Linked DNA regions of Homo sapiens. The protein of the gene in region 2 purifies or fractionates together with the protein of the main gene of each other region. This does not show direct contact. Each region holds a gene or a part of one and is shown on either strand. Other genes may lie near its edges. The genes, in order: PDGFB, PDAP1, DIMT1, FAM114A2 and LIN54.

What was found.
Region 1: the proteins of PDAP1 (region 2) and PDGFB purify together in Homo sapiens (co-purification; one study listed by BioGRID). This does not show direct contact.
Region 3: the proteins of PDAP1 (region 2) and DIMT1 purify together in Homo sapiens (affinity purification with mass spectrometry; one large-scale study listed by BioGRID and IntAct). This does not show direct contact.
Region 4: the proteins of PDAP1 (region 2) and FAM114A2 fractionate together in Homo sapiens (co-fractionation; one large-scale study listed by BioGRID). This does not show direct contact.
Region 5: the proteins of PDAP1 (region 2) and LIN54 purify together in Homo sapiens (co-immunoprecipitation; one large-scale study listed by IntAct). This does not show direct contact.

The regions. Positions count from the first base shown.
Region 1 is NC_000022.11:39,234,016-39,240,074, forward strand, and holds part of PDGFB (platelet-derived growth factor subunit B isoform 1 preproprotein), read right to left. Parts: intron 1,860-6,059; coding exon 1,763-1,859; intron 1-1,762. UniProt on the Homo sapiens protein: Growth factor that plays an essential role in the regulation of embryonic development, cell proliferation, cell migration, survival and chemotaxis. Potent mitogen for cells of mesenchymal origin.
Region 2 is NC_000007.14:99,400,358-99,406,416, reverse strand, and holds part of PDAP1 (28 kDa heat- and acid-stable phosphoprotein), read left to right. Parts: intron 1-1,463; coding exon 1,464-1,555; intron 1,556-2,911; coding exon 2,912-3,019; intron 3,020-5,992; coding exon 5,993-6,059. UniProt on the Homo sapiens protein: Enhances PDGFA-stimulated cell growth in fibroblasts, but inhibits the mitogenic effect of PDGFB.
Region 3 is NC_000005.10:62,392,217-62,398,275, reverse strand, and holds part of DIMT1 (dimethyladenosine transferase), read left to right. Parts: intron 1-3,668; coding exon 3,669-3,792; intron 3,793-4,228; coding exon 4,229-4,321; intron 4,322-5,285; coding exon 5,286-5,350; intron 5,351-6,041; coding exon 6,042-6,059. UniProt on the Homo sapiens protein: Specifically dimethylates two adjacent adenosines in the loop of a conserved hairpin near the 3'-end of 18S rRNA in the 40S particle.
Region 4 is NC_000005.10:153,988,785-153,995,606, forward strand, and holds the end of FAM114A2 (protein FAM114A2), read right to left. Parts: intron 6,189-6,822; coding exon 6,135-6,188; intron 4,327-6,134; coding exon 4,192-4,326; 3' UTR 1,364-4,191; downstream 1-1,363.
Region 5 is NC_000004.12:82,982,159-82,988,217, reverse strand, and holds part of LIN54 (protein lin-54 homolog), read left to right. Parts: intron 1-3,341; 5' UTR 3,342-3,373; coding exon 3,374-4,057; intron 4,058-6,059. UniProt on the Homo sapiens protein: Component of the DREAM complex, a multiprotein complex that can both act as a transcription activator or repressor depending on the context. In G0 phase, the complex binds to more than 800 promoters and is required for repression of E2F target genes.

The DNA.
Region 1 (6,059 bases), on a different chromosome or scaffold from region 2:
GGGAGGGAGGGAGGGAGAGGGATGGGGGTGGGAGCTGAAGACAGAGAAGAGGAGAAGAGGGGTGGGAGTTGGGCCTGCTGGGGGTGGGGAGTCCCTGCCACACACCCTTCTAGGGCCTGGTCTCTCTAGCTCCGGGGCCCTCACACCGTATCTGTATCTGTGTCTGTCTCCCTCCCCTTCTCTAAACTGTTGCCCCACCTCTGCCCCCAGCCGTCTGTTGATTCCTCTGGTCACAAATGACAGCTCCCTTTTCTAGCCTGGGCACCATCTCAGTCCCATCAGCCCTCCTTGGAGACATCGGTCCTTTCCAGAGCCCATGGCCAGAGGTTGGCTGCTGGGAAGTGAGGGCTGAGGGAGGCCTCTGAGCTGGATGTTAAGGCGTGGACAGACCCTTCTGTCTCTCTCATGGGTGAGGAGCCACAAATAAACTAAGGGGCATTGGGAACACGCTCCTGCCACCTCCACACAGCACCCCATGGCTCCAGTTCTGGCACCGACCCACTGGCCCCATCCAAGACAAAGGCGCCTGCCGCCTGTCCGTCCCGGGTACTGCAGGGAGTCTGATGACTAGTCCGCTTCCGTCCAGCCTGACAGCCCCTACGTCAACGAGCCTATCTGTCCCTCTGGCTCCTTTCCTTTCTCCCTGCCATCTCTGGAATGTCCCTGGTGGGGAGGAGATGGGGAAAAGATGCGCTTTGTGGAAAGGTTAAGTTGATTAGGAAAAAATAGCCACATGGTTGCCTTGAAACAGGCCTGCTATTGAAACCTCATCTCCAAGATCCCGACCCCCACCAGGGGTGTGGAGGGGCCGTCTGAGGGTGGGGGTGTAAAGGCTTGGAAAGAAATGGTAGAAAGGCTAAATTTGGAAGTTGCCCCATTGTGTGTGGCCAGGGGCGGCCAGTCGGGCATAGGGTGGGGGTTGTGGGAGACATCGGGTGGGGGCCCTGGCGAACAATAGGTGGGCCCAGCTGGGGCCCCCTCCTGCCTGCCTCACCGCCCCCCAGCACAGGCGGGATTGAAAGGGCCCGGGAATGCTTTTGAGAGGGAGCCAGGGGCCCAACGGGGAGAGGAAACAAAGGCAGGAAATGCTGTTCCCCCGTAGATAGCGTCTGGGCAAGGATTACAAAGTGACAAAGAGACAGAACCCCAGAGGGAAGGGGACCTGGGGGTGCAGGGGGGCTGCTGACCAGGGCTCCAGGGAACAGGCCAGAGGTTAGAATAGAATGGAATTTGCTCTGAAGACAGCGTTTATAAATACATTGTCAATCCAGCCCGCCAGCCCCGCCACGTGTGTGCCACCGAGCACGTGCCCATTCGCTGAGTGAGCTCTGGGGCACGGGCAGGGCTGCCTGCTGGTCGAGGCCAGGTGTCCCCAGGGGACCTCACAGACCGGGCCCCTAGCCAGAGGGGCGGGGAGATGACTCCTCCAGTGCCACCCTCCCTGGCTGGGCCCACACCTGGAGACATACTCGGCAGATGCCCTGGGCACCTTCTCCCCGCCCTCCCTCCTCCTGGCACCCCACCCTTGGCACCAAGCCGGAGCCACACGTGGGTGCTTCTCCTGCCACACCCCAAGTCCCAGGTACCAACCCGCCTGCTGACTCGGCCCTGCCCTGGATGGGTGTGGCCACGCTCTCTCTGGGCTGCCATGGGCCTCTAGTTCTCCAGACGTCAAGAAGGAGGGATGCCTCCTGTCCTGCCCCTCCCAGATCTCTTAAAGTCTCCTCGGAGGGCCGGAGCGCGGGGCGAGGATTCCATTTACCTCCGGGGTCTCCGTGCAGCAGGCGTTGGAGATCATCAAAGGAGCGGATCGAGTGGTCACTCAGCATCTCATAAAGCTCCTCGGGAATGGGGTCCCCCTGCCGGGCAGACACCAAAAGGCTGAGTGAGCTGGGAGTGGGGGCTTTCCAGCATGGCTGTCTCCCCCACCACACGCTTTCTCGCTTTCTCCTGTGGAAAGCTCCAAGGTCACAGGGAGACGGACAGGCAGGATCCAGGCCTGATGATCAGGAGCACAAAGGCCTCGGGGCCTGGACCTGCCGAAGCCTCTGAGACCCAGCTCAGTCCCTGCACCCTCAACCCCCAACAGGAACCCCAGCTTGCTTTGAGTTGGACCTGCTTGTCTCTATGTCTGTCTCCCCCACCAAACTACATGTTCTGGGAATGCACCAAAATCTGATTTCTCCCTGAGTCTCACAACACACCTGACAGCTGAAGACAGCCAGCATCTCCCATGGCCAATCTAACCCCCATTTTACAGAGGGGAAAACAAACGTTCAAAGAGAGGCTCAATTATTGGCAAAAGCTGCATTCAAACCCATGCCTTTGGGATGACAGAGCCTGTACTCCCAGGCTCCTGGGTACAAGAGGTGCTTAATAAACGCGTGCAGAGTGCGATGGCCTCAGGAGGCCCCAGGTCCTAGCGGTATCTATGAAGTCTCTCACTCGAAAGAGGCGAAAAGGGAATCCTCGGACACGGCCGGGAAACCTGAAAGCTTACCCGTGCCCTGTGCCCAACCAAACCCTATTTTTAGAGCCCCTTTGGCCTGTTGCCAAACATACTCGAAACCTGATAACACTTCAACAGGCCTCATTCGGAGCTGGGCTTCCTCCAGGGAAACCGCAGGTCCCACAATGACACAAGAGCAGCCCCGTAGGAAGGTCACAGCCACGTCCCCCACAGTCCCAGGAGACCCAAGGGGCGGATGCCAGAGATCCCAAGAAAGAGGCGAGGGCAGATGGGAGACTGAGAATCACAATCCAGACCACCAGCCACTGAGAAGCAAAGAAAATTCCTAAGATGTCGCTGCACGTTCAAAGGCTGGAACCGGACTTCCACGTGTGCAAACACACACGTGCAGGCACAGGCACTCGGGCTGCACGGTCTGGACAGACAGTCCTGGAGAGGGCATCAATAGGCTTGGCACATTACTATAGAACCTTGGGTTAAACTATTTTCTGCCTCAGTTTCCCTGGATTAAGAAGGGAGGACTTCCCTTCTTGGTTCGCTCCACATTCCCGGAGCCGAAGGTCGGGGGGCTCAGAGGGGGTCGGTGCAGGCTACCTTCACAAAAGGGATGCTGCTTTCTCGCTGCCTGACGGCGGAGGGGGAGCGAGGGAGAGGAGAAGAGGTCGTCTCAGCCCTGTGGCCAGCCTCAGGGGGCTCTCCCCGAAAGCTCTGTTTCCTCCAGCTTATCATGAGGTCTAGCAACACCTCCAGGGGTTCATCCATGACCAACTCTGGCCACCCACATCGATCCAGGAGCCAGAAGACTCAGGGCGGGGGGTGGGGGTGACCACTTTTAAAGCTACATCATTCCCTGAAACCCCTGAGTCTCCATGTCTTTGTTTGAACATGGAGCTTACAACTCCGCCCAATGTCTAAGGGCTGCTGGGCAACTTGAGGAAAAAAAGGTGGCAGGGCTTGGCTGAGAACTAGGGTCTTTCCTTCAATATCCGGGCAGCCAGGGGCTGCACGTGCAAGACAGAGGAGGGTATGGGCCCCGCTGCCCCTCACTTTCGGCCCCATCTCCTCCGGGCTCTGCCTCCTCCCGCCCTCAAGCAAGTTCATTCTTTCCACCTCAGAAGAGAGACCACGCCTCCGGTGCTCTCCAAATGTTGACAAAGTACCCAACCCACAGAACAGAGGGCTTGGTCTCCAGTGAACACCAGCGAAAGCCGCTTCCCCTGAGAGTTCTGTCAAACCCAGAACTGGCAGGCCAGAGAGCTGAATCCCACGCCTTTGGACCAACTGCCGTGTGACCTCGGCTGGTCACTGCCCCTATGGTCCTGGCTCTCATCTGTGAATCGAGGGGCTTGAAGAACATTCGATTCAATTCTAATTCTGCCAGGAGGCGTTAGAAGGGGCAGAGAAAACGCCAAAGCCGGGTGCCTAGCCAGGCCTCCCTGGATCACTGGCAGAAGGAGAACAAGAAGCGTTTGTGGAGTAAAGATTCAATTAACCCCCCAGGGGAGGGGCCCAAAGGCCTAGTAGCAAATGGCATTTAGTGCTTGTGCCAAGATCTCCCTGCCCACTGGAGAGCCGGCTGCAGCTGCCAGCCACGGCAGAGGAGGCAGACCCCTGAACAGGCCGAGTGGACACCCCAGATCCAGGCCCACGACACATAGGAGATGCCCCTCCAAGGCTGAGTGTGAAAGAGCCCAGGATAGGGTCTGAGGAGGAGAGAGAGGCACATAGTAGGTCCTCGGTAAATACTGGTCAAATGCATGAAGGAGTCTACCATTTTCCAGGTTCTGTCCAGTATGATTCTTCTGCCTCCTCCACCAGGAGGGCCACCTGGGATATTCTTCCCCAACCCTAGGCAAATGAGCAACTAGAGTCCCTTTTAATCTGAGCAGGGAGACCGTCCCTGAAGATGCTTTTGGTAATGTGGCCACTAGATGCCCAGAACTACCCATAAGCCCCCGGATTTGGTAATAATACCACAACTAACATCTATGAATGCCAGCTACAAGCCACACGCTGAGAAAAACACCGTATAAACTACCAATCCTAAGAGGCTGGCAGTATTTGTATCCCCATCCTCCAGATGAGAACACTGAAGCTTAGAAAAAATTAAACAAGCAGCAACAGGTCCAGACAATTAGCAAGTGGCAGAGCTGGGTCGTTCCCAGGCTCCAGACTGCCCACCTGTTCCAGCCCACCATGGGGCGTCTCAGCCTCCCTCTCCTGTGTTCTAAGGCCACTGGCCCTCAGCATCACACAAGGTTCGTGTTGGCTCTTTACTCTGCAGCATGTCCCACGTCAGAGGCTCTCAACCAGGGCCCAGTGGGCCCCCAGGGGACAGTGGCAATGTATGAAGGCATCGCTGGTGGCCACAACTTGGGGTGTGCACTGCATCTTAAGTTGGGGGAGGCCGGGGATGCCGCTCACCACCCTTCAGGGCACAGGACGGCCTTCCCAAACATCAGGAGTGCAGAGGCTGAGAAACCCTGTAGCGGAGGAAAGAGCAAGGGCTCCAGATGCCAGGGCAACCTGGATTCTTGGAATCTTGTCACAATCTAAAACCTCGGCTTCTGCATCTTTTAAATGGGGCTAATAATACCTCGCCCGGGGTTACTGGGAGGCATAATTGCACAGAGCAGAGCTGCCAGCAGATAATGGGAGCTTAATGAGTTGTCACTGTCATCATCATTAATTCTTTCCGGATGGCTCCTTTGTGGGCAGCAGCGAGTGGCACACGTGCTCAGGGCCAGCAGCACAGGACATTTTTGAGGATGACAAGGAGTGGGTGGAGAGCTGCCTGCCCATGAAAGAGTGCGTGACTTTGCATTATCCCTTGTGCTGGGCCACAGGAAATGGTACCCTACCTCCACACTGGCAGAGCCTGGGCCGTGTGGGCTTACAAGGCCCTTCCGGGGCTGGGGGTGGGTGAGGGTGGGGGGACACTCAGCACGTGCTCAGCTCCAGGATGCAATGCTCTGGGGATGACGAGCATGAGCACCTGTTGGGAGTCACAGGCTCTTCTTGGTATGGGAAGGTGAGCCGCCCGGAGCCTGGTTTTCCTGGGCACAGGTTCCGCAGGCCTCCAGGTGGACAGCTCACTTCAGAGATGGGAAAGGAGGCCTGGCACCCTGAAGAAGCTGTCCCAAGATCTCAGGCCCGGGGTTTCTGGCAGAGTGAGGGCGTGGCGAGGAGGCAGCTGGGGCAAAGCCAGCCGTGGGAGCCAAGGTAAACAGCCTCCTCCGACCCCGCCCCCAGCGCCAGCTGCAGCAGGTAGGAAGGGCACGAGCGAGCGTGAGGCCAGGTGAGTGATCTGCTCCCAACCAGGCTGGCAGATCAAAGGGGCTTGAACCCCACCCTCCTCCTGGGCCCAGCACACACACACAGATACACACTCCCCGGCCCGCCTGCCATTCCCACCAAGGGACACACAGGCCCAAGCAACCAGGGGCGTTGTCTGTGGCTGGCAGAGGAAGAAGCTGATGAGGCCTCCCAGAGCCTGCCTGCCTGAGAGTCGCAGGCCTTATTTAGATCGAATGCCAAAGCCAACCAACCCCTTTGAAGAAGCCCTCTCGGGGCAAACCACAGAAGCCAT
Region 2 (6,059 bases):
TTAAGTATTCTCTTTTTGCCATACTACTAAGGTGAACACAAGGTATTTTATTGTGTTTCCAACATCTGCAGTAAATTGCTTATGTGCTCAGTGGTGCTTTTGTTGTTGTTTTTCCACCAAATACTAGATTAGAGGGAAAAGTAACGAACAGCGATTTTTTTATTTTTTTGAGACGGAGTCTCGCTCTGTGGCCCAGGCTGGAGTGCAGTGGCTCAATCTCGGCTACTGCAACCTCTGCCTCCTGGGTTCAAGCGATTCTCCTTTCTCAGCCTCCCAAGTAGCTGGGATTACAAACATGTGACACCATGCCCAGCTAATTTTTGTATTTTTAGTAGTGAGGGGGTTTCACCATGTTGACCAGGCTGGTCTTGAACTGGCCTCAAGTGATCTGCCCGCCTTGGCCTCCCAAAGTGCTGGGATTACAGGCATCAGCCACTGTGCCTGGATATTAGCGAACATTTTTGTAGTGCTTATTCAGTAGCAGGCACTGTTCCAGCAGCTTTCTGTATATTGATTAATTCATCTATCTTTGTGACAACCCTGTAAGGTAGGGACACAGATGAGGAAACTGAGACTGAGAGGTTAAATACCTGCCCAAAGTCATCAAGCCAGTAAGCGTAGAACCTGGGAGTTGGACTCTAAACTTCGTGGTGTTTCGCAGTCTGCTTTGGTCTAAGTCTCCTGGTCTATGAAATGGGACCAGCTATCACCCCTGTACCATAGGTTTGTTCCGAGGATCAACTGTGCCCCTGGCTGGCTGGGCGCGGTGGCTCACACCTGTAATCCCAGCACTTTGGGAGGCTGAGGTGGGCAGATCACGAGGTCAAGAGATCAAGACCATTCTAGCCAACCAACATGGTTAAACCCCATCTCTACTAAAAATAAATAAATAAGCTGGGCATAGTGGTGCACGCCTGTAGTCCCAGCTACTCGGGAGGCTGAGGCAGGAGAATCACTTCAACCAGGGTGGTGGAGGTTGCGGTGAGCCGAGATTGCGCCACTGCACTCCAGCTTGGGTGACAGAGCGAGACTCCGTCTCAAAAAAAAAAAAAAAAAAGTGCCCCTGGCTGTGACAGAACATCGTGTAAAAAGCCCTTATAGTGACGGCAGGGATGTAAGTGGTACATGTTTCTGTGGTTGCATCTGAGTCCACTATGCTTGGATTGTAAGGGACCAGGGGATGTAGCAAGTCATTGCAGTGCACCGTCCGCCATGTTCTCCCCTCCGGTCTTCTGTGTAGGAGCCAGCATTTAGTACACAGTTTGGTGATGCATCAGATGGTCACGAGTTGCTTCCTGCGTGCCTTTGAACACATGAGGGTGGCGGAGGTGTCGGTTTGGGTGGTGCTGGGTGAGGGGTAGGTGAGGCCTCCGATGAGAGTACTCCAAGCAGGACACAGCCCTCTGGGGGTCAGAGCAGTCAAGGCAGCTGCTTCCGCTCACCTAAACTGCGGGTCTCTGCAGGAAGAAAGGGAGGCCACAAAGGCCGGGCGAGGCAGTATACAAGCCCTGAGGAGATCGACGCGCAGCTGCAGGCTGAGAAGCAGAAGGCCAGGGTGAGTACGTGCCTGTCCAGGCCACGCCAGTGGCCCAGGGTGGCGCTTTGCCAATTTGGTTCATAGAGAGGCCAGGCAAGGACTACCCATTCGCAGGGACAAGCCAGCACGTGGGGGTCGGGCGGGCAGTGAGCCCCAGGTGTGAGTCTCAGAACAACCAATGACAGTCAGGGCGTGGGCATCCTCTGCCTGGATGGGTTAGAAAGAACTGTGGCTGCTCTGCAGCAGCTGCTTTAGTGGGGCCCTGTTCTTGGTCTTGTGCACCTACTTTCAGGAGGATCTCCCTCCTGCAGGACCTGTCCATTCACAGCTCGAGCTCCCAGCACCCCTGCTTGTCTGCTGCAGCCACACAGGATGATTTGCCACACTGCACATGACATATGCCCTGCCTTCCCACACCCCCAGCATCAGCATGCTCTCCATCCCTGGAGACGTTGTTTAGCCTCTCCTCCTCTGTGACTCATGCCTCACCTCCAGCCAGAGCTGATTTAGTAGTTCCCTCTCCTCTGCTCCCATAGTACATTGTCCAGGCCACCGTTAGGAAATAGAATACATTCCCATCGTCAGCATCTGCATCTTACCATATCATTAGATTGATGCCTGGATCAAGGGCCTAAGGGAGCAGTCAGGGCCAGATGGGTACACAGCTGTGACGTACCCCAGGAGTCTCAAGAAGGGAAAGGCCACATCCAGCTGTGGGGTCTGGGAGGGGTCCTTGGGGGAGCCAGCAGCTGAGCAGGACATGGAGAATGTGTGGGCAGGTGCCAAGAGGTGAAGGGACATGAGGTTCCTATAAGGGACATTTTTGGTGGGAAGGCAAGAAAGGTGGAGGGAAGCAGCCTTCCGAGGTGTTGTTCTGGGGAGCTGGTGCAGGAGGTCACCTGTGTGGGTGGGTCGGGGGGATGACTTGCCATGGAGTGGGAGTGGAGTGCGGAGAGGACTCGCCTGGGAATGCCAGCATGATTTGGCAGCTGCATGTGGCAGGTGGGAGCTGAGTAGGATGGTGGTTTTCAGCCTGGTGGCTGAGTCCTTCTGACCCCAGGAAACAAGCTTCTCACCCTGGCTGCTGAGGTGGCTGCGTTAGGAAGGGGAGCAGGGCCTTCTGTGGCTGTGTGAGGGGCTTCCTGGACTATGGGAATGGCCTCTAAGCTGTGGTGCTAAGTGCATAGGCTGCCTGTGTCTGGCCCAGGTCCCATTCCCTGGGGGCCAGGGTCACAGTAGGACCCTTGTCATCCTTGGTTCCAGCCTTCCAGAGGCTTGATTTCTCAAGATCCACAGTCTGGGGGGTGATAGGGTCACAGTCTTGGGGATTTGTTTTGCATTTTTGATTCTGCAGGTTGTCCATTTCTGAAACAGGAAGAAGAGGAGCAAAAAGAAGGTGGAGATGGGGCTGCAGGTGACCCCAAAAAGGAGAAGAAATCTCTAGACTCAGATGAGAGTGAGGATGAAGAAGATGACTACCAGGTACTGAGTTCTTTTGAGGGCCTAGAGCCTGGACTCATTCATTCAACAAACAAACGTTGAGTGACCGTTTAGTACTAGTCCCAAAGGTAGATGCAGACAACGTCCTTGCTCTTGAGGGTTTACACTACGGGAGATACAACAAAGAAGTAAACAGACAGTGTCATTTCAAGTAATGAGAAGTGTTACTAACAAAACAGACTGTGATTGAGGGGACTTGGAAAAGTGTTGTGGTGGTGAAGCAACTTATAAACTGAGATCTGAAAAAACAAGATGCAGCCAGCTATGTGAAAATTGGCGTGCAGAGCAATTGAGAAACTGGATTAGCAAGTGCAAAGGTCCTGTGGTGGGAATAAGCTTGGCATGTTCAAGGACCAGAAGGGGGCCAGTGTAGCTGTGAGTTAGTGGGTAAGGAGCGGAGTGGTCCAGATGCAGGAGGAGAATTGGCAAGGGCACCTCCTGTGTAGCTGTTGAAGGGGTTGGCATTTCTTTTCTTTTCTTTTCTTTTTTTTTTTTTTTTTTGAGATGAAGTGTCGCTTTGTCACTGAGGCTGGAGTGCAGTGGCACGATCTCAGCTCACTGCAACTTCCGCCTCCCAGGTTCAAGCGCTTCTGCCCCAGCCTCCTGAGTAGCTGGGACTACAGGCGCCTGCCACCACGCCGGGCTAATTTTTTGTATTTTTAGTAGAGACAGGGTTTCACTGTGTTAGCCAGAATGGTCTCCATCTCCTGACCTCGTGATCCACCCGCATCAGCCTCCCAAAGTACTGGGATTATAAGCGTGAGCCACTAGCCCAGCCCCCTTTTTTTTTTTTTTTTTTTTTTTTTGAGACAGGGTCTCGTTCTGTCACCCAGGCTGGAGTGGAGTGAAGCTGCAGTGAAGCACCGCAGCCTCAGCCTTCCAAGTAGCTGGGACCAAAGGCACACGCCACCACATCTACCTAATTTTTAAATTTTTTGTAGAGATAGGGATCTCACTATATTGCCCAGGTGGTCTCCAACTCCTGGGCTCAAGTAATCCTCCCACTTCACCCTCCTGAGGTGTTGAGATTGCAGCAGCATGAGCCACCATGCCTGGCATGGGGTTTCTTTATGGTAGGTAGTGGCAGCTGGGGGAGGCCTTGAAGGGATTGAGAGACATGACCAGATATGCTTTTTTTTTTTTTTTTTTTTGGGAGATGGAGTCTCTCTGTCGCCCAGGCTGGAGTGCAGTGGTGCGATCTCGGCTCACTGCAAGCTCCGCCTCCCGGGTTCAGGCCATTCTTCTGCCTCAGCCTTCCGAATAGCTGGGACTACCGTAGAGGTAGCGTTTCACCATGTCAGCCAGGATGGTCTCAATCTCCTGACCTCGTGATCTGCCTGCCTTGGCCTCTCAAAGGGCTGGGATTACAGGCGTGAGCCACTGCGCCCAGCCTCCAGATATGCTTTTAAAAGATTATTTTACTTTGGGAAGCCAAGGTGGGTGGATCACAAGGTCAGGAGATCGAGACCATCCTGGCTAACACAGTGAAACCCCGTCTCTACTAAAAATACAAAAATTAGCCAGGTGTGGTGGCAGGCGCCTGTAGTCCCAGCTACTTGGGAGGCTGAGGCAGGAGAATGGCGTGAACCCGGGAGGCGGAGTGCAGTGAGCCAAGACTATGCCACTGCACTCCAGCCTGGGCGACAGAGTGAGACTCCGTCTCAAAAAAAAAAAAAAAAGATTATTTTAGCTTCTTCATGGAGAGTGAATGATAGGATGTTGAGAGTAAGAGCAGTGTTCAGATCAGAAATCCTGGGCCGGGTGTGGTGGCTCACACCTGTAATCCCAGCACTTTGGGAGGCCAAGGCGGGCGGATCACCTGAGGTCGAGATTTCGAGACCAGCCTGACCAACATGGAGAAAACCTGTCTCTACTAAAAATACAAAATTAGTCGGGGGTGGTGGTTCATGCCTGTAATCCCAAATACTCAGGCTGAGGCAGGAGAATTGCTTGAACCCAGGAGACCGAGGTTGTGGTGAGCCGAGATTGTGCCATTGCCCTCCAGCCTGGGCAAGAAGAGGGAAACTCTGTCTCAAAAGAAAAAAAATCGTGGCTTGCCCTAGGATGGTGACAATGGCAGTGGAGAAGAGTGGACAAATTTAAGCTGTATTTGGGGGTTGCTGAAGGAACGACGAATCAAGGATATGCTTAGGATTGCAGGGAGGGTCCGGTTGGGTAAAGGATGAATCTCGAGTTCTGTCTTGGACATGTTAAGTTTACAGTGCCAGGCATCTGAGTGGAGGTGTAAGTGTGCAGCTGGACTGGAAGTGTGTGGAGGGAGCTCTGTGGAGTGGAAGCTGTCTCCCTGCCCCCTTAAGGAGAATTGATGGAATTGACAGGGCCTGAAACTTTGACCAAACCTGCTGCATTGAGAACACACCCCCTTCTTCTGGAACTTCTGCAGGGGAGGTGGAAGGTGCAGATTCCAGGTTTTTGGGCCAGCGTCCCAAACCTGTAGAGTGTGTGATCCAGTAGCTTATTCTTGGGTTACAAGTCCAGTCCATCAGCTAAGGTGGGTGGGAATTGGAATTAGTCATGACAGCACACACTTGGCCCACCCTGCCCTGGGGATTCCAGCCCAGCGCTTTTTGCAAGAAGAATCAGGCATGGGATTCCATGGAAAACTGCTTTTGGAAGCCGAGCTTGAAGTAGGGGAGTAGTGCTGTGTGAGTGCTTGCAAGTCGGGGTAGGGCGCACCTCTCATCTACCACCTACTTCCTGGTTGACTTGGGCAAGTTATTCGACCCCGAGCAGCCGTTCTGTGGGCTCTTCCCAGGCTGATGAAGATGCTCCAGAGAGCTATACCCACTGTGAGACTTGGGCTGAGCACTACGTGGGCTGGGGTGGAGCAGGAGTTTGTCCTCATCCAGATGGGCTGTTGAGAGATGGCAGGAGTGGCCCTCAGGGGCTCCACAGGACCTGAACTCCAACAACCAGCTTCTTGCCCTGTTCTAGCAAAAGCGCAAAGGCGTTGAAGGGCTCATCGACATCGAGAACCCCAACCGGGTGGCACAGACAACCA
Region 3 (6,059 bases), on a different chromosome or scaffold from region 2:
GTTAAGTCTAGGTTAGAATTTTTATTACCTTATGTCTAGACAATTGCAGTGGTTTCCTAACTGGTCTCTAGTATAAGAGGTCTTCAAAAAGTTCATGGAAAATGTGTATTATGAAAAAAACTTGCATGGATTTCAAAATTTTTTTGCACCAAAATAAACTCTGTACTAACTGAGCAGGATCTAGTGTGAGGCACTGAGAAGGATAAGACATCAGTTTGAAAAGAGCCCCTATCAGAGCAACATGAACTCTGCTAAAATTCAAGTAAGAACAAACATCCAATTTATGGTGAAACCTGGTTGGAAGAATGGTGAAATCATTGATGCTTTACAAAAAGTTTATGGAGTCACACCTGTAATCCCAGCACTTTGGGAGGCCAAGGCAGGCGGATCATGAGGTCAGGAGATCGAGACCATCCTGGCTAACATGGTGAAACCCCACATCTACTAAAAATACAAAAAACTAGCCGGGCGTAGTGGCGGGCGCCTGTAGTCCCAGCCACTCGGGAGGCTGAGGCAGGAGAATGGCGTGAACCCGGGAGGCGGAGCTTGCAGTGAGCCGAGATCGCGCCACTGCACTCCAGCCTTGGCGACTGAGCGAGACTCCGTCTCAAAAAAAAAAAAAAGTTTATGGGGACAATATCCCAAAGAAATCAGCAGTTTACTAATGGATAACTCATTTTAAGAAGGGCTGAGACAATGTTGAAGATGAAGCCTACAGTGGCACACTGGCCATATCAATTTGTGGGAAAACATTCATCTTGTTTGTTCCCTAAGTGACGAGGAACAACATTCAACAGCACAAACAATAGCCAACACCATAGACATCACAGTTGGTTTAGCTTACACAATTCTGACTGCAAAATCAAAGTTAAACAAACTTTGTACTTGATAGATGCCAAAACTGTCATACCCTCTTTTCTGAAAGATTTTATGAAAAAACAAAACAAAAAACATTGTACTCAAATCAGCTGCAGATAAAAGCAGAGCTTCCAGTGGAAATTTTACATAACTGGGATCAAGATCCTGAAACATGGCTGGGTGGAGTGGCTCACACCTATAATCCTAGCACTCTGGGAGGCCGAGGCGGGCAGATCACTTGAGGTCAGGAGACCAGCCTGGCTAACATGGTGAAACCCCATCTCTACTAAAAATAAAAAAATTAGCTGGGCATTGTGGTGGGCACCTATAATCCCAGCTACTCGGGAGGCTGAGGCAGGGGAATCGCTTGAACTCAGGAGGCGGAGGTTGTAGTGAGCCAAGATTGTGCCACTGCACTCCACACTCCAGCCTGGGCAACAGAGCGAGATTGTCAAAAAAGAAAACAAGATCCTGAAACATTTCTTCAAAGAATTACAAAGAATTGTAATGGAGATGAAATATGGCTTTACCAGTGTGATCCTAAAGACAAAGCAGAGTGAAAGTGATGCCTACCAAGAAACGGAGTGGCTCCAGTCAAAGCAAAAGCAGACCAGTCAAGAGCAAAGGTCATAGCAACAGTTTTTTTTTGAATGCTCAGGGCATTTTGCTTGCTGACTTTCTTTAGGACCAAAGAATGAAAACATCTGCTTATTACAAGAGTGTTTTGAGAAAGTTAGCTAAGATGTAGCAGAGTAACTCCTGGGAAAGCTTCCCCAGAGATTCCTCCACCATAATACTTCTACTCCTTCCTCTCATCAGACGAGGGCAATTTTTCGAGAGTTTCAATGGGAAATGGTTAGGTATCCACCTTACAGTCCTGATTGGGCCCCTTCTGACTTCTTTTTATTTTATGAGACAGTCTTGCTCTGGTGCCCGGGCTGGAGAGCAGTGGTATGATCTGCACTCACTGCAGCCTCCACTTCCTGGGCTCAAGCATTCCTCCCACCTCAGCCTCCCAAGTAGCTGCGATTACGGGCATGTGCCACCACACCCAGCTAATTGTTGTATTTTTTTTAGAGATGGGTCTTGCCATGTTGCCCAGGCTGTCTCCCCCTCCTGAGCTCAAGTGATCTGCCCACCTCAGCCTCCCCAAATGCTGGGATTATTACAGGCATGAACCATGGTGCCCAGCCCTTCTGATTTATTTTCGTTTCCCAGTCTTAAAAAATCTTGAAAGGGCACTCTTTTTTCTTCAGTTAATAATGTAAAAAAAAAAAACCTGCAGTGACATGGCTAAATTCCCCAGAGCCTCAGTTTTTTTGATATAGACTAAAATGCTGGTATCATCACTTACAAAAGTGTCTTGAACTTGATGGAGCTTATGTTGAATAATAAAGTTTATGTTTTTTCTTTTTTTTCTTTTTCTGAGACAGGCTGGAGTACAGTGGTGACATCTCAGGTCACTGCAACCTCAGCCTCCCTGGGCTGGGCTCAGATGATTCTCCTACCTCAGCCTCTTGAGTAGCTGGGACTATGGGGGTGTACCAGCATGCCTAGCTAATTTTTGTGTTTTTTTTAGAGAAGGGGTCTCACCATGTTCAGCCCAGGCTGGTCTTGAACTCCTGAGCTCAAGCGATCTGTCCGCCTTGGCCTCCTAAAGTGCTGTGGATTATAGGTGTGTGCCGCCACACCAGCCTTATTTTATCTTTTAATTCAATATTTCCATGAACTTTGAAGTCACTTTCTATATTATATACTAGTGGCTTTCAAACTGCAAGTCAAAAACTAGTGGTTATAAAATTAATGAGTCATGACCATTCTTTTTTTTTGTAATCACATGGAATAGAATATATCACAGGGCATTGCATGTAGTCCAGGTGATTATGGTTTCATGAAACTTTTGTTTTGAAATACAATATAAACACATATACATACAGACATTTGTGGCTTGGCTTGCAATGCCAAATGTATTTTTAGTGTGACTCATTGTCAAAAGTTTGAATGTCAAAGTGTAGCTTTGAAGATACTCTTCTGTTCGTTAACCCCTACAAAGTCTTCCCCATTGCCTGCTGAATAAAAAGTCTACATCTTTTGGCTGGGTGTGGTGACTCATGCCTGTAATCCCAGCACTTTGGGAGGCTGAGGTGGGCGGATCACCTGAGGTCAGGAGTTCCAGACCAGCCTGGCCAACATGGTGAAACACTGTCTCTACTAAAAATAGAAAAATTGGCCAGGGGTGGTAGTGTGCGCCTGTAATCCCAGCTACTCGGGAGGCTGAGGAACGAGGATCACTTGAACCTGGGAGACGGAAGTTGTAGTGAGCCGAGATTGCGCCATTGCACTCCAGCCTGGGCGACAAGAGCGAAACTCCGTCTCAAAAAAAAAAAAAAAGTCTACATCTTTTAACCCGTCAAATCAAGGAAACATTGAACGTCACAATCTGCCTCTTCAGTCTCACCTCTTCCTTAAAGGTGTTTGCTACCCCATAAATATATTACTGCTACTGAAACAATTTTATTTCACTTTGTTTTCATAGAAGAGGTGATGGACTAGTGCTGATTTGAAACATCTCATCCAGTCATTAAAGGCTTATATTTGCAAGCTATCTTGCCATGAGGAGTACAGCAATTATAAAAACAAAGCCAGCTCTCTCATTCTGTGGCAATAAAAAAAAGGCTGAATGTGTTCTCCTACCTTATAATCAGCTGCCAATGCTTTGCTATTTCTCTCCCAAGAAAATTCATTGCAGTTAAAATTCATTTATAGTTGACAATGACCATTTTCCTTATTCCTTTCTGCTTTCTTTTCAGGTGTGCTATACTTATGTTTCAAAGAGAATTTGCCCTCCGACTGGTTGCAAAACCTGGAGATAAGTTATACTGCAGACTCTCAATTAATACACAGCTGTTGGCACGTGTGGACCATCTAATGAAAGTAAGTGAATTTTGTTTTCTTTCTCTTTTTTCTGAGATAGAATCTCACTCTGTCACCCAGGCTGCAGTGCAGTGGCTCACTGCGATCTCTGCCTCCCATACTCAAGCAATCTTCTCGAGTCCCGAGTAGCTGGGACTAGAGGTGTGCGTCACCACGCCTGACTAATTTTTTGGTATTTTTTGTAGACACAGAGTTTTGCTATGTTGCCCAGGTTGGTCTTGAACTCCTGGGCTCAATGATCCATCTGCCTTGGCCTCCCAAAGTGTTGGGATTACAGGTGTGAGCCAAAGCACCCAGCCAGTGATTTTTATTATTGAAATAATCTAGCTTAATTCATCCTTGAGCATCCAGTTGTGCCTTCTGTGAGGATAGCATATCTGGTTACTAAATAAAAGTTGCCTTTGTGAGTACTACTTAAATACTTTTTCATTAACAGGTGGGAAAGAATAACTTCAGACCACCGCCCAAGGTGGAATCCAGTGTTGTAAGGATAGAACCTAAGAATCCACCACCACCCATCAATTTTCAGGTGAGGTTAAAATACTAGCTCATTCAATAAAGGAAAAAAAAGTCCAGGCGGGAAGATGTGTGCCTATAACAGCAGAAAAATATTGAATCAACCTAAATATTCAAACATAGGAAAATGTTAATTAGGACACATCCCTGTGCTGAAGTAGATGGAATAATTTGATGCAAGGTAGTTTTGAAGTGAGACCCAGTCTCAAAAAAAAAAAAGAAAAAATGGAATAAAACTAGGAAAACAAGGTAAAATGAAAATAGTTGTTTTAAAGTAGTATTATGGGTAACATCTTTTCATTGTAATTGTTTTTTGAGATTTAAAAACAAGAAAGAAGACCACTTGATATAAAACCTTACTACAGCCACATTAGAGAAAAACGTGATTGTGTGTGTGGTCAACTGGTGGTAAATGGAGTGGTTTGTCAATAACTCCTTCAAGGAGGTTTAGGTGTGTTACACAGGAAGTATCTGAAGTCATGTCTGTTTTGAATCTTATTTTTGAAAATGATACTTAGATTTAAATAAACGCCATGTTCTTTGTTCAGATGTGGGACCATTTTGTTTTTCCTTCCCTTTCTTTTTTTAAGATGGGGTTTCACTATGTTGCCTAGGCTGGACTTGAACTTTTGGTCTCAAGCGATCCTCCCACCTCAGCCTCCTGAGTAGCTGGTACTACAGGCATGCAGCACTGTGCCTGGCTTTATTTTTTCAAATTAAAAAAAAAAATTGTCATGCTTTGTCAAAAAAAAATTCTGAGGAAAAGACATATTCAGTGAAATGCGCCAAAGTGCAAAAATCAAATGTATGTCTTACTTTTGCATGTGTGTGCCAGCCAGATCAAGATTACAGAACATTTTCTTCACTTCAGAAAGTTTCCTTCAATTGTATATATTAAAAGACAAAATAATACCTAGTGGGCATAGACAAGAACAAGAAGTTTGTAATTTGAAGAAAATGTCTATCTTCTATTTCAGGAATGGGATGGTCTAGTAAGGATAACCTTTGTTAGGAAAAACAAGACACTCTCTGCTGCATTTAAGTAAGTATTACACTAATTTCTAATGTATAAAGGGCCAGTGCTCCAGATACTATGCTAGAATTTGGTCCTTTTCCTGAGCAGCTACCCTAAAGCATAAAGATTATGGGTCCAGACAAACTTCACCTTTTAAACTATCTTTAGAGCTTGGGAGGCTCTAAAGCAAACTTAATGAAGAAAGTTTGCTGGAGTTGAGAGTCAGATCACATTTTTTGGCAAAACAGGAAAACACTCCCAAACTCTGACCATATATCTGCTCTAGTTTTTTGTTGGAAAAATGAGGTGATGATGGACCCCTTCCACACTTGTGAAGGATATGTGTCATGTAATTAACCTGGGAAAATGCAGCTCATCAATTTGGGGTTCAAGGGTAAAAGAGAGGTGAGACACAGTTTTACAGGGCTTGGAGATTTTTTTTTAGGGGATTTTTTGTGGAGAGTCTAGAACTTCTCTAAGAATTTAAGAGGTATTAGGATTTTGCACTTTAAATATATTTAGTGTTTGCTTCATAAGTTTAAATATTCAACAACTTTTAAAATTCCTTAATTTCACCATACAGAATATAGATTTAATTTCATCTAAAATGAAATTATTGCTTAAATGGCTTATGTATTAGTTAAAAAAAAGTTTAAAAAAGTAAGAAATTACTCTGACTTTGGAATAATAACAGTGGCATCACTTCTTTATGCTATAGATCAAGTGCAGTGCAACA
Region 4 (6,822 bases), on a different chromosome or scaffold from region 2:
GAGCTCAGACTCTGTGCTCTGTCATCCTGTGACAGGATGACACCCTGTAGCCTTCATGCTAATCTCTGAAGACTGGCCCTAGAGGGACCTCACCTGTCGCATGTGTCTCCACTGTGGTCAACCCAGCTTCCACCTAAAACCACTTGTAGAAAGGTGTATCTCAAACATTAACTAGACTTACTCTCCACAGAGGTCTGCTCCTATCCTAATTGAGCAACTAGACTTTTAATAATTTTGGAACTCACTTACTATATGGTTAACATACCTCTTCTATACAGTATATTCCCTGTGAGGTTTGTGCTCATTATTCTCCCCCTCTTTAAGCATTGTGAAGCTACAACATTCTCTATGGAAATAACCTATGTGATTTGTGAAACCATACTTTGATCACCTATTTCCACTATACAGAACAGCTTTATAACTCACTTGAGAGCACAGAATGGCTAATGTATACAGAAAGAGACAAATGTGGGACTGACACAAGTAGAAATAGATGATGGTTTCACTCAATTTGCAGTTTCTGTATCTGTTCTTATAAGGGTAGGCCAGTCAGACACTTAAATGTCTGGTAAGTTCAACATTGACTTGTGAGGGTGAAGTGACAGCTATAATGAATCTTTCTTTGCTTTTAGCTCAAAGGACAAATGAGTTGAGAGAATATTCAGATTTTTAAAAAAATTGTCTTTAGGACTTGCCTGGGGAAATGATAATTAAACATGAAGGGCCTTTGGGATTTGGCTGGACGATACAGTAACAGGGAAGGATGGGCTTCAAGTTAAGTAGGGAGGACCGAATGAACTAGTGTTTGAGGAACATCAAGGATATACTCAGAGAGTCAGACCAGTGGGCAAGTTTTCAAAATTCTCTTCATACAGTTGCCAGAGGCCTTTATGACATGTTAACTAAGAGGCTTATTATTTTTAGAACTTTCTCATTTCTCAAATGCTTTTTAAGTCTTTTATGAAAAGAGATATCATGTGTTGTTAAGAAATAATAAAAGGGCCAGGCACAGTGGCTCACGCCTGTAATCCCAGCACTTTGGGAGGCCGAGGCAGGTGGCATCATCTGAGGTCAGAAGTTCCAGACCAGCCTGACCAACATGGAAAAACCCTGTCTCTACTAAAAATACAAAATTAGCCAGGTGTGGTGGCACACACCTGTAATCCCAGCTACTCGGGAGGCTGAGGCAGGACAATCACTTGAACCCAGGAGGCAGAGGTTGCGGTGAGCCGAGATCACGCCACTGCACTCCAGCCTGGGCAACAAGAGTGAAACTCCATCACACACACACACACACACACACACACACACAAAGAGATAATAAAACAGCTCAGTCTCTGACATTTGTGAAATATCACACTTGTTGAGTGCCCACTGTGGGTATAATTTTATTCTGGGTTTTCTAAACTGAAGAATTCAGGTTTAAAATTCAGAACACCTCTAGAAATACAGAAAAATGTCTATTTCTCAAATGGAGATATCAATAGCAACTACCTATAAAATAGCTCTCCCTCAAAAAGGTCTTTCACTAAAAACAAGTACAAAAGAAAGCATCCTTTTTCAGCAGTAGGAACCCACAAGATCTTGTTCTTTGATTACAGGATTGAAAAATTCACATTTGTACACCTAGCACTGATTTCAGATTCATAGTAATGCCATCTATAAAAATTACAATTTCACATTTCAGAGGCCTGCCAACCTGGATATCTATGCTTAAAAAAAAAAAAAAAAACTATCAAAAGCAAGTAAGGAAAATATAGCTTGTCCTTAACACATTTCTAAGGTATTATGCAAAGGAAAATAAAAATTGTTTCATAGAGGTTTCTACTTCTTTCAGATCAAATTAATAAAGTCTCTCTTAATCACAGCCTTTTAAAATCTCAATAGTAGGAAAAGACACATTTACCCTAGCAATACCTGAACATTTCACTTATTAAGGTTTTAAGTGAATTGGAAAGGCATATATTAGTAATTAGTGGTAAATCTTAGACACCAAAAATTTAAAAGGAAAATAGTACCAAAAGTGTAGCTGTTAACAAAAAACTAAAACACTGTAACTACCCCAAATAAAATAATGAAGCACATACTATCCAAAAACCATCACCATAATCCAGCAAGTTCCAAAGTGATCCCTGAATTTACCTACTCATCTGTCATGAATGTTTATGTTTCTCTATGTCTACTGGATCAAGGAATCTTAATTCTTTTTCAGTATATTTTATGTGAAGAGTAGACAATTGTTACTCAGAATTGGGCCTTTCATCATTTCACTAGTGGTCCCTAACTCCATTAAAATAAATAAATATATATGGGGGGGTGGGGAAGATGAGAAAAAAAGAGTTAGTGAGTCATATTTACCTTATGTGAGACCTAATCTAAAATTTGCCAAATTCAGGGCTGAAATCTGAATAGGTGTATAAAAAGAGTTGTTACTCTCTCCTTCATATGTATACCCCATTTCTTGAAAGAAAAACCTTAAATACATTTCTAGGTTAAGGATTTAAAGCTGCCAAACTGCCATTGTACAAGAGGCTGAACAGACAGTAGGCAGAGTGACCAGTTTCTAAACTTTGCCCTCAAGGGATACAGGTTCAGACACATCAACCAAGCTTGAGGCAACAATTCAGAACTGGTGACACCAGCCTTTGTAACCAGAAGGCAACTGTTTTTCTGAAACTTCAGAAATATTCAAGCTGGAAAGGGTGAAATTTGTCTTTAAAAAGGAATATTCAAAAACTTTCTGATCATATTAAGACAGAATATAGGCAGAGTAACATTGTAGTGCTGTTGGTATACCTTTTTAAACCAAATTTATTTCTCTTCCTTGCTTACTAACTGACTCCTGCCCCAAAGAAGATTACGTAGAAACAGTCTTTATACTAATCTATGTTATGGCTTTGCTTTGCTATTTTTTTTTTTTTTTTTTGGTCTAAGTAAGATATTAGGGCTCGTGTTTACAAAAGTAAATGAAAGGATCAAATAACATGATTAATACATTTTATTACAAAGGTTTTAGAAGATGAGGGGCAGAGCTAACAAATTACCTTAATCATTAAAAAACCACAAAGTTGGAGAATTTTTTTAAAAAGAGTGGATACCAAAATAGCTTTTAGGAAGACGACAGCTTAATAGTCTCTTAAATTGCTGAAGAGAGCAAAAGAAAGCTTAAGATCTGGAGGATAAAAGTTATATCAAAAACATGCTAAAGAATACATTAAAACAAACAAAAAGGAAAGAGGAAAAAATAAACTATGCCTTAGAAGTTAAATCCTATCATAAATGAACATCATTTCTAAAGGACTATGGCCCACTTCAACACTCAAACAAAAAAATCCTCATTGCTAAAACAGCTTCAACATTCCTTTGGAGTTTGCTGTTAAAGAATTTATCCTGCATATATGGTAGACACGAAACACATCCTGAAGAGACTCAGAATATCTGCAAACATAAAACTGCTTCTCTAAATTGCATTTACTGGCCTTGAATCCAGTAGAGTAGGGTTCAGCTATGACATGAAGTGTGTCATCCTGGGGAGGGGGAGCAATTTGAAGAAAAAGGGCACTTTGCTACAGTTAATTCACATGGCTATAATAGTCTACAAGTTTCTCCTCAATGCCAAATATCTACTAAGAATTTAAAAAAGCAGATGAAACTTTCTATTTCCAAGAATTCATGTGATAAAGGGTAATCATCACAGAGTTTACATATGCTCAGTTTTCTTAAAGCCATAGATTTTATTCCAGAAAGGAGAAAGTACATGGCATTAATAAACCACACATGCCATGAATTTTAGAACACTAAATTATTTTTCTCTGGCTTATCAACCAGTTATATCCATGGGCTGCAAATTATATCCATGACAAAATTGATAACATTTTGCAACATGTCAAAGAAAGACCAACATTTTTGCCTGAGTGTCCCACTAATCTTTATCTAGAGTTATTATTCTTGGACTTTCTACAAAAGTTTCTTTTCAAATAATTTATGAATTACAACAACTGGAAAGAATACTGTGAGAACCTGAATACTTCAATCAAACACTGAAGGCAACAATCTTCCTCTTTAAACCATCTCTCCTGCCTGAATTTTTATATACTAAAATAACCCCACTCCTTCATTTCTGCAGGAGTAGCCAGAATAAGGTGGCATTCCTTGGCCGTCACAAGTCCCAGGTCAAAACGTCTCCATTCTTCAATGTTCTAACAAAGGTTTCTGGCCCTGCAGCTCATGTCTGTGTGATTCAATCTTGTTCTCAATGAGAGAGATCTCTAGCACAGGTAAGAGTAGCTGAAAGGCGTCCTGGATGTAGGAGGCACTGTTTGATGCCTGCCAGGATTGAAAAAACAAGAAAAAGAAAATATTAGTTATTTAAAAGAGAAGATATACTGTAAGGCAACAGGGGAACAGATTAATTTTTGTAATCTAACTGAATTCATAGCCTGGCAAGTAAGAGCAGTGACTTGGCCATTTTGGTAAACTCTATTATAGGGAGAAGAATTTAGCTCTTAAGATGATATGAGCACCAAAAGAGAATGTCAGCATTTTGTACAACTTGCCCATCAGACATGGTAGCTTTTCTTTGGCAACATGGTCAGACTTGGCATTCAAAGCTTATTTATTCCTTTATTGAGTAGGGTAGATTCTGTCACAATATTGTGGTCAATTACTGAAAGAGGCTTTCAGAAGGCTATAAATCCTACACCTATAGAATTTCTAGCCCATTATGATAGCTCTTTTTCCATGGACTCAATGCGATCAGTGAGCACAATAACTGCTCACACACATAAACATCTTTCACACATATACTGCTTTCAAAGATGACAGTATAGATATATTTCTATCTTGAACAACATTTTTCAGAAGTGTTAGAGAATCATTACCCTCAGTTTGCTGGACTTCATTTATACTGAAAAGCCCTCACCTTTCAAAAGAATATCAACAGAGAGCTCATTAAGATAAAAATGTATAATTTCGAAGACAAGAGTGTTTCAAATCTGTATCCAAAAAAAAAATCCACTAAAAATAATAGGGAGCCCATATCAAGTGATATTACCTTTTTAAAATTTATCAATGGCAAGTACTATTTAAAATTCAGTGTGACATTTAATACTCAATTTCCCACACAAAAGGGACCTCAGATATCGTCTAGTTAAATCTCTTATGTTGCACATGAAAATAACGAAGTTTGTCAGAGTCACACAACAAATCAAGGAAGATCCAGGGCAACACGGGGCTCCTGGTTTACAAAGTCTTTTCTACTGCACCACTCTGCCATTTACTAAATCACAAACTTATATTTTTAAAAATTATTACAATGATCAAAATAGTTTCCCTGACTACTTGATTAAAACTGTGTAATTAAAGAATTAAAATCATTTCCTTGATGGTAATGTCAAAAGAATTTAAAACTAGAGAAGTAAGAGTTTGGTAGTTAAAACATTTTTTCAATTAACATCTAAAACTTAACTATCAAATATATTTTCTCCCCCCAGACTTACATAAACATGTTTTAAACAAATCATCAAAAAGTCTATGTTGTCTGCACAGTTAGTTTACAAGGTAGAGTTCTTAAAACATGGAATCCAGAAAACATCACATAGGGAGGTAATATAATCAGTCACAGGATCCTCTTTTCCATTGACTTAAACCATCTACCTTCTCAAATCTAATGGAATGATGAGGATAATGTAAACACTACCTTTCTGACAAAACAAAGCATGATTTCCTGGCAAGGAAATGACAACATGTTTTGTTTTGTAACAAACCTCTGCATAAACTTTAGTCCTAAATTAGGAAGCAGTGCTTACCTGTTTATAATTTTCAGCCCTTCATGTTTACCAGCTGGTATTCAGAAGGTGTTTCATTACTGTGAACCGTCCATTAAGCTGTCAAGGATTAGTACTAAGTAATGACAATCTACTGCTTCTTCCAGTACCCTGCAGCTTCAACTGTATGCTTTCTAATTAATAAGGAAGGAATACACATCAAATATACACTATTTCTGTCATATCTACATCAATATGGCTAAACTACCAATATGGTGAATAAAATAAAAAAGCCAAAAGCAAAAGGCTTCAGAAGAGTTAATTATACGTAATACCTTTGGAGTCAGAGACTTAAAAACAATTACTAACCTCTAGAAATACTGCAGTGATTAATGGGTTAAGGACATCTGCCATTTCTTTGACCTGGAATAACGAATACATTTTTAAGTGAGCAGAGTAGGTTAAATAACAGTAAGTGGAGTACGATCACACTTTAAAACACACACACACACCCATACATAAATATTAAATATAAGCACAGAAGTCTGGACTGAGAGCAAAATGTCATCTTTAGAATGGAAATTCTAAGTGTTTTAAACTTCTTTCTTAATATCTTTCTGTGCTATCCATATTGACAGTGTATTGTTTTATACCTTTTTATTGACTTTAAAAAGTATCTTCATTTGACCACAAAACCTTAGAACCATTTTAAAACAAAACATGTAGATATGGAACATGTGCTCAAAAAACTCAAGGGTCTTTAACACAAGCTGTTTAGAAAAATCTTACAAATAAATAATGTAAATTTAATACTTGTATGTGTCAGCATCTTATAGTTGATATGCTGGCTTAAAGTATCTTTATGGAACACACAGAAAGATTTGGCCTTGTAAGATTAACTTCAGGAAACCCAGATCCTTTTGTCAAGAAAATACTACAGGGAAAAGTGAAGCTGTACCAAAAGATTATCCTTTACAGGAATAATCTAAACTCAAATTTTAAAAAATTAACTTAGGCCATGGTCTTAATTAAAACAAATGTAATGTTCATGACTAGG
Region 5 (6,059 bases), on a different chromosome or scaffold from region 2:
CAAATAATCTTTAGTGATAGAACAGACCCACTTCTCAAAAGAAACATTTATGTGGCCAAAAAAACATGAAAAAAAGCTCAACATCATTGATCATCAGAGAAATGTAAATGAAAATCACAATGAGATACCATCTCATGCCAGTCAGAGTGGCGATTATTAAAAAGTCAGGAAACAATAGATGCTGGCAAGGCTGTGGAGAAATAGGAATGCTTTTACATTGTTCATGACAATGTGAATTAGTTCAACCACGGTGGAAGACAGTATGGTGATTCCTCAAGGATATAGAACCAGAAATACCATTTGGCCCATCAGTCCCATTACTGGGTATGTACCCAAAGGAATATAAATCATTCTACTATAAAGACACATGCACACATATGTTTATTGCAGCACTATTTACAATAGCAAAGACATGGAACCAACCCAAATGCCCATCAGTGATAGACTGGATAAATAAAATTTGGCACTTATACACCATGGAATACTATGCAGCCATAAAAAGGAATGAGATCATGTCCTCTGCAGAGACATGGATGAAACTGGAAGCCATCATTCTCAGCAAACTAACACAGGAACAGAAAACCAAACACTGCATGTTCTCACTTATAAGTGGGAGTTGAAGAATTGAGAACACATGGACACAGAGAGGGGAACAACACACATTATGTTCTGGTGGGGGGTTGGGGTCAAGGGGAGGGAACTTAGAGGTGGGGTCAACAGGTGTAGCAAACCACCATGGCACACGTATACCTGTGTAACAAACCTGCATGTTCTGCACATGTATCCCGTTTGTTTTTTGTTTTTTGTTTTTTTCTTAGAAAAGTAGACTTATTTTTTCCCTGTTTTAAAACACCAATGGCAACATTTAAGGGAGTATAATTTTGGGATTAAGGTTATTAACTGTGGCATCTTTTTAAAAAAATTTTTGAGACAAAGTCTCACTCTGTTGCCCAGGCTGGAGTGCAGTGGCACGATCTTGGCTCACTGCAACCTCCGCCTCCCGGCTTCAAGCGATTATTGTGCTTCAGCCTTCTGAGTAGCTGGAATTACAAGCACCCACCACCACGCCTAGCTAATTTTTGTATTTTTAGTAGAGATGGGGTTTTGCCATGTTGGCCAGGCTGGTCTCGAACACCTGACCTCAGGTGATCTGCCCACCTCGGCCTCCCAAAGTGCTGGGATTACAGGTAAGAGCCAGTGTGCCCAGCCAAGATAATTAACTGTGGCATATTAAAAACCTGAGCTGGAGTCCTGGCTCTACCATTTACTAGCTATGTGACCTTAGGCAAATTAACCTTTCTAAATGGCCTCATCTATAAAACAGGGATAATGATGATTCCCATTTCTGAGTTGTTGTGAGGATAAATTAAATTACGTCATCAGTGTTGTAAGCACTCAATAATGATGGTTTATTTTGGTGGTAGTAGTATTTGCCAATGCTAATAGTTGTAATTTGCTACTTGTGTGTTAATTTTGGATGGGTGTTGTATCTTTTTTTTTTTTTTTTTTTTTTTTGAGATGGGGTCTCGCTCTGTCGCCCGGCTCAAGTGCAGTGGCACGATCTCGGCTCATTGCAACCTCTGCCTCCCAGGTTCAAGTGATTCTTCTGCCTCAGCCTCCTGAGTAGCTGGGACTATAGGTGCATGCCACCATGCCCAGCTAATTTTTGTATTTTTAGTTGAGACGGGGTTTCACCATGTTGGCCAGGATCGTCTCCATCTCTTGACCTTGTGATCTGCCTACCTCGTGATCTGCCAGAATGCCCAGCCGGGGTGGTGTATTTTTATATTTAAAAAAAGGGGGCCGGGCATGGTGGCTCACACCTATAATCCCAGCACTTTGGGAGGCCAGCGTGGGCAGATCACCTGAGGTTGGGAGTTTGAGACCAGCCTGACCAACATGGAGAAACCTTGTCTCTACTAAAAATACAAAAAATTAGCTGGGCGTGGTGGCACATGCCTGTAATCCCAGCTACTTGGGAGGCTGAGGCAGGAGAATCGCTTGAACCTGGGAGGTGGAGGTTGCGGTGAGCCGAGATTGCGCCACTGCACTCCAGCCTGGGTAACAAGAGCGAGACTCTGTCTCAAAAACGAAAAGGAAGAGAAGAAAGTTGCTGATTTGGTTCCTATGGATCTTTGATGTTCTCTGGGCAAATAACTCACTGCTATTTAGTCTGTCATAAACATGATGTGCTGTCTTTTATACATGAAGATAATAAAATTGATTCCTTTATTGGAAGTTCTACAGACCTTTGGCTAAAAGTACCACAGCTCAAAGTTTTTCGTAATCTGCTTTATGATTATTACTTTTTTTCTTCATGGGGATTGGCTGTACATCTCTTAAATGGTTCTTTTTGACACTTTAAATGGCGGAGGATGGCCAGGCACGGTGGCTCACGCCTGTAATCCCAGTACTTTGGGAGGCCGAGGCAGGTGGATCACCCGAGGTTAGGAGTTCGAGACCAGCCTGGCCAACATGGCAAAACCCTGTCTCTACTAAAAGTACAAAAATTAGCCCGGCTTGGTGGCAGGCGCCTGTAATTCCAGCTACTCAGGAGGCTGAGGCAGGAGAATTGCTTGAACCCAGGAAGCGGAGGTTGCAGTGAGCTGAGATTGTGCCACTGCACTTCAGCCTTGGCAACAGAGTGAGACTCCGTCTCAATAATTAATTAATTAAGTAAGTAAGTAAATGGCCAAGGAGGGTTTGAGAATCTTCTTTCCAAATAAAAATTTCCCTGGTATGAAGCTAGTTGGTCAAAGTTGTACCACAAATGCTATTTGATCTGCAATTGCTGAGATGTATTACTCTAGAAACTCCTTTAACTTTAATTTGGGTATTTAATGGATTTTTAAAATGGGATAGTACACTCATATTAGGACGTAGCTCATTGGAGATTTGAATGTATTTTACAATATGTTAATATTTAAATCTTTATTTCCTTGTGTGAATCAGCAGTTTTCAAGTCTGTCAATGAGAGGAAAAAAATCTGGGTAGAAATAAGATCAGATACATCAAAGATTACAAATTTTATTAGAGGGCGTTGGAAAGGAGTTTCATGTGATTATGTGACTTAGTGTTGCCTGAGTGCAAGATACTTGTGGATTGAGACGAGAGTAAGAATGTTTGCTTCTAGTTTTGTGTTCCCATATGACTTATATTATAGATTCTTGCAGGTTGAGGATGTGTTAACATGATTTAACCCAGATAAGCTTCAGGAATATTCTTCATTCAATTATATATCAATTTAAAAATTGTCATTTTGCCATTTGCATTTTTTTTGAATTTTTTTCTTACATCTTTTGAAACCTAGTAACTTGTTCATTTTTCAACTTTTATTACAGTGCCTGATCAACTTTCTAGCGGGAGAACGATCATGGAGGTGGTGCCAGCTGAGGTGAATAGTTTGCTTCCAGAGGAAATAATGGACACTGGTATAACTTTAGTGGATGATGATAGTATTGAGGCTGTTATTGTTTCATCCCCAATTCCCATGGAGACAGAACTGGAAGAAATTGTCAACATAAATTCTACTGGTGACTCTACAGCCACGCCCATTTCCACGGAACCAATCACAGTGTACAGTAACCACACTAACCAAGTTGCAGTGAATACCACAATTACTAAAGCAGATTCTAATACCACAGTGAAACCAGCTTTTCCAAGTGGCCTTCAAAAACTTGGTGCTCAGACTCCTGTGACTATATCAGCCAATCAGATTATTTTAAACAAAGTATCACAGACATCTGATCTTAAACTTGGCAATCAGACCCTTAAACCAGATGGACAGAAGTTAATTTTAACAACTTTGGGCAAGTCTGGTTCACCAATTGTTTTAGCACTACCCCATAGCCAACTACCCCAGGCTCAGAAAGTTACAACTCAGGCCCAGTCAGGAGATGCTAAGTTACCACCGCAGCAAATTAAAGTAGTTACCATTGGAGGGAGGCCAGAGGTGAAACCTGTCATTGGTGTCTCAGCATTGACCCCAGGAAGTCAACTGATTAATACTACAACTCAGCCCTCTGTGTTACAGACCCAACAGTTAAAAACAGTACAGGTAAAAGAAAAAAGGGGGCTTACTAATTAAAATGCATGTTTAAAAAAATTTAACTGATTCATAGTTGTGTTTATAGGGTTACTAAATACATAGTTGTTACTGAATTCTTTTGAATGTTGTTTTATGTAATTGTGTGTGTGTGTTTTTAAGTTTGATATGTCTAATGCTTATGAAAATTTTTACCAGATAACTTAGAAAGCAAACTTAATTTTGGTTAAATTCCAAATTAGTATATTTATAGCCTTTTACTAATTTTAAAATGCATTTTATTCTTAGTGGTAGTTTGATTACAAGGATGTTTTGCTGGTATAAATATGCCAGACTTGCTGCTGGGCTATCAAAAAAATCATGTAGACAACATTTTTTTTTTTCAGTTCACAGATGGCCAAAGGCTAGGAGAACTTTGTTGCTCTGAGAAACCCTCAGAGCCAGTAATAGTGCGTGTCAGCCAGCGTGTGCCTTTTATTTGGAGTTTACTGTTCATTGCCATTATTCATGTTTGTACTATGGAAAAGACAGTGACATGTGATGGAAGATAACATACAGGCTTTAGAGTTGTACCAACTGGGCTTGAGTTGCCTCTATCTTATCCTACCAGTTATGGAAAACTTTCGTAGGTTACTTATCTTCTCTGAGTTTTTGACTTTATCTTAAGAATACTTTTTGATCAAGATGAAATGTGTAGTATAATTCTCAAAATATTGAGGATGTTTCATAATGGTACCTATTATTAGTATGAATAGGACCCTAAGAAAGAAGGTTACTGGAATATATATTAAGTGATTTCCAGTTTATCATGCCCAAATAGGCTTTCTTAGGCCACCACTACTCTTGGAAATGCAGTGATCGGCGGGGCGTGGTGGCTTAAGCCTGTAATCCCACCCAGCACTTTGGCAGGCTGAGGTGGGCGGATCACCTGAGGTCAGGAGTTTGAGACTAGCCTGCCCAACATGGTGAAACCTCATCTCTACTAAAAATACAAAAAATTAGCCAGGCATGGTGGCGAGTGCCTATAATCCCAGCTACTCAGGAGGCTGAGACAGGAGAATCGGTTGAACCCGGGAGGCAGAGGTTGCAGTGAGCCGAGATCGCGCCATTGCACTCCAGCCTGGGTGACAAGAGCGAAACTCCATCTCAAAAAAAAAAAAAAAAACAAGAAATGCAGTGATATACTTATGACCAGGAAACAAAAATGTATCCTCTGTTTGAAAGAGTTGTCTTTGAATGCATAGAAATAATAGGAAATGCATAAGAAGGAAGTAGGAAGGTTTTGGGAGACTACACTCAGCTGATATTAGAGTAATGTTTTGGTTACTGTTTTGACAGTAGAATTAGAAACCACTTTTCATGGGCTTTGCATTTAAGAACTTTGTAGAATTTCTTAAATCTTATAATTTGCCTCTGTCCCCTTTGCCATTATTAAACATTTAGTGCTCTTTCTTGTTCATTATTACTTCTCACTTATCTATGACTTCCTTTTACTTCTTATTTTTGCCAAGAATCTCTTGGATGAGATATCTTATCACCATCAAGCATCTTGTCCTCAGTTTTGAAGCTTGTTTTTATTGGTTTACCAAAGTTTATTTGGCTTTGGCAATATGGATCATAATTATGTTCAAAAGAAACTGATGCCAGGTGTGGTGGCTCACGAACCTGTAAGCCCAACACTTTGGGAGGCCAAGGTGGGCAGATTCTGTGAGGCCAGGAGTTCGAGACCAGCCTGGGCAACATAGTGAAACCCTGTTTCTACCAAAAATACAAAAAATTAGCCCAGCATGGTGGCGCACACTTGCGGTCCCAGGTACTCAGGAGGCTGAGGTGAGAGGGTCGCTTGAGCCGGGGAGGTCTAGGCTGCTGTGAGCTGTGGTCGCATCACTGCACCTCAGCCTGGGCTACAGGAAAACCCTGTCTCAAAAAAATAAAAATAAACTAAAAAAGGAAAAGATATCATAAATTAGAATGTCATTTTTTTCATTTATGAGAGCAAGGTATATGTGACATT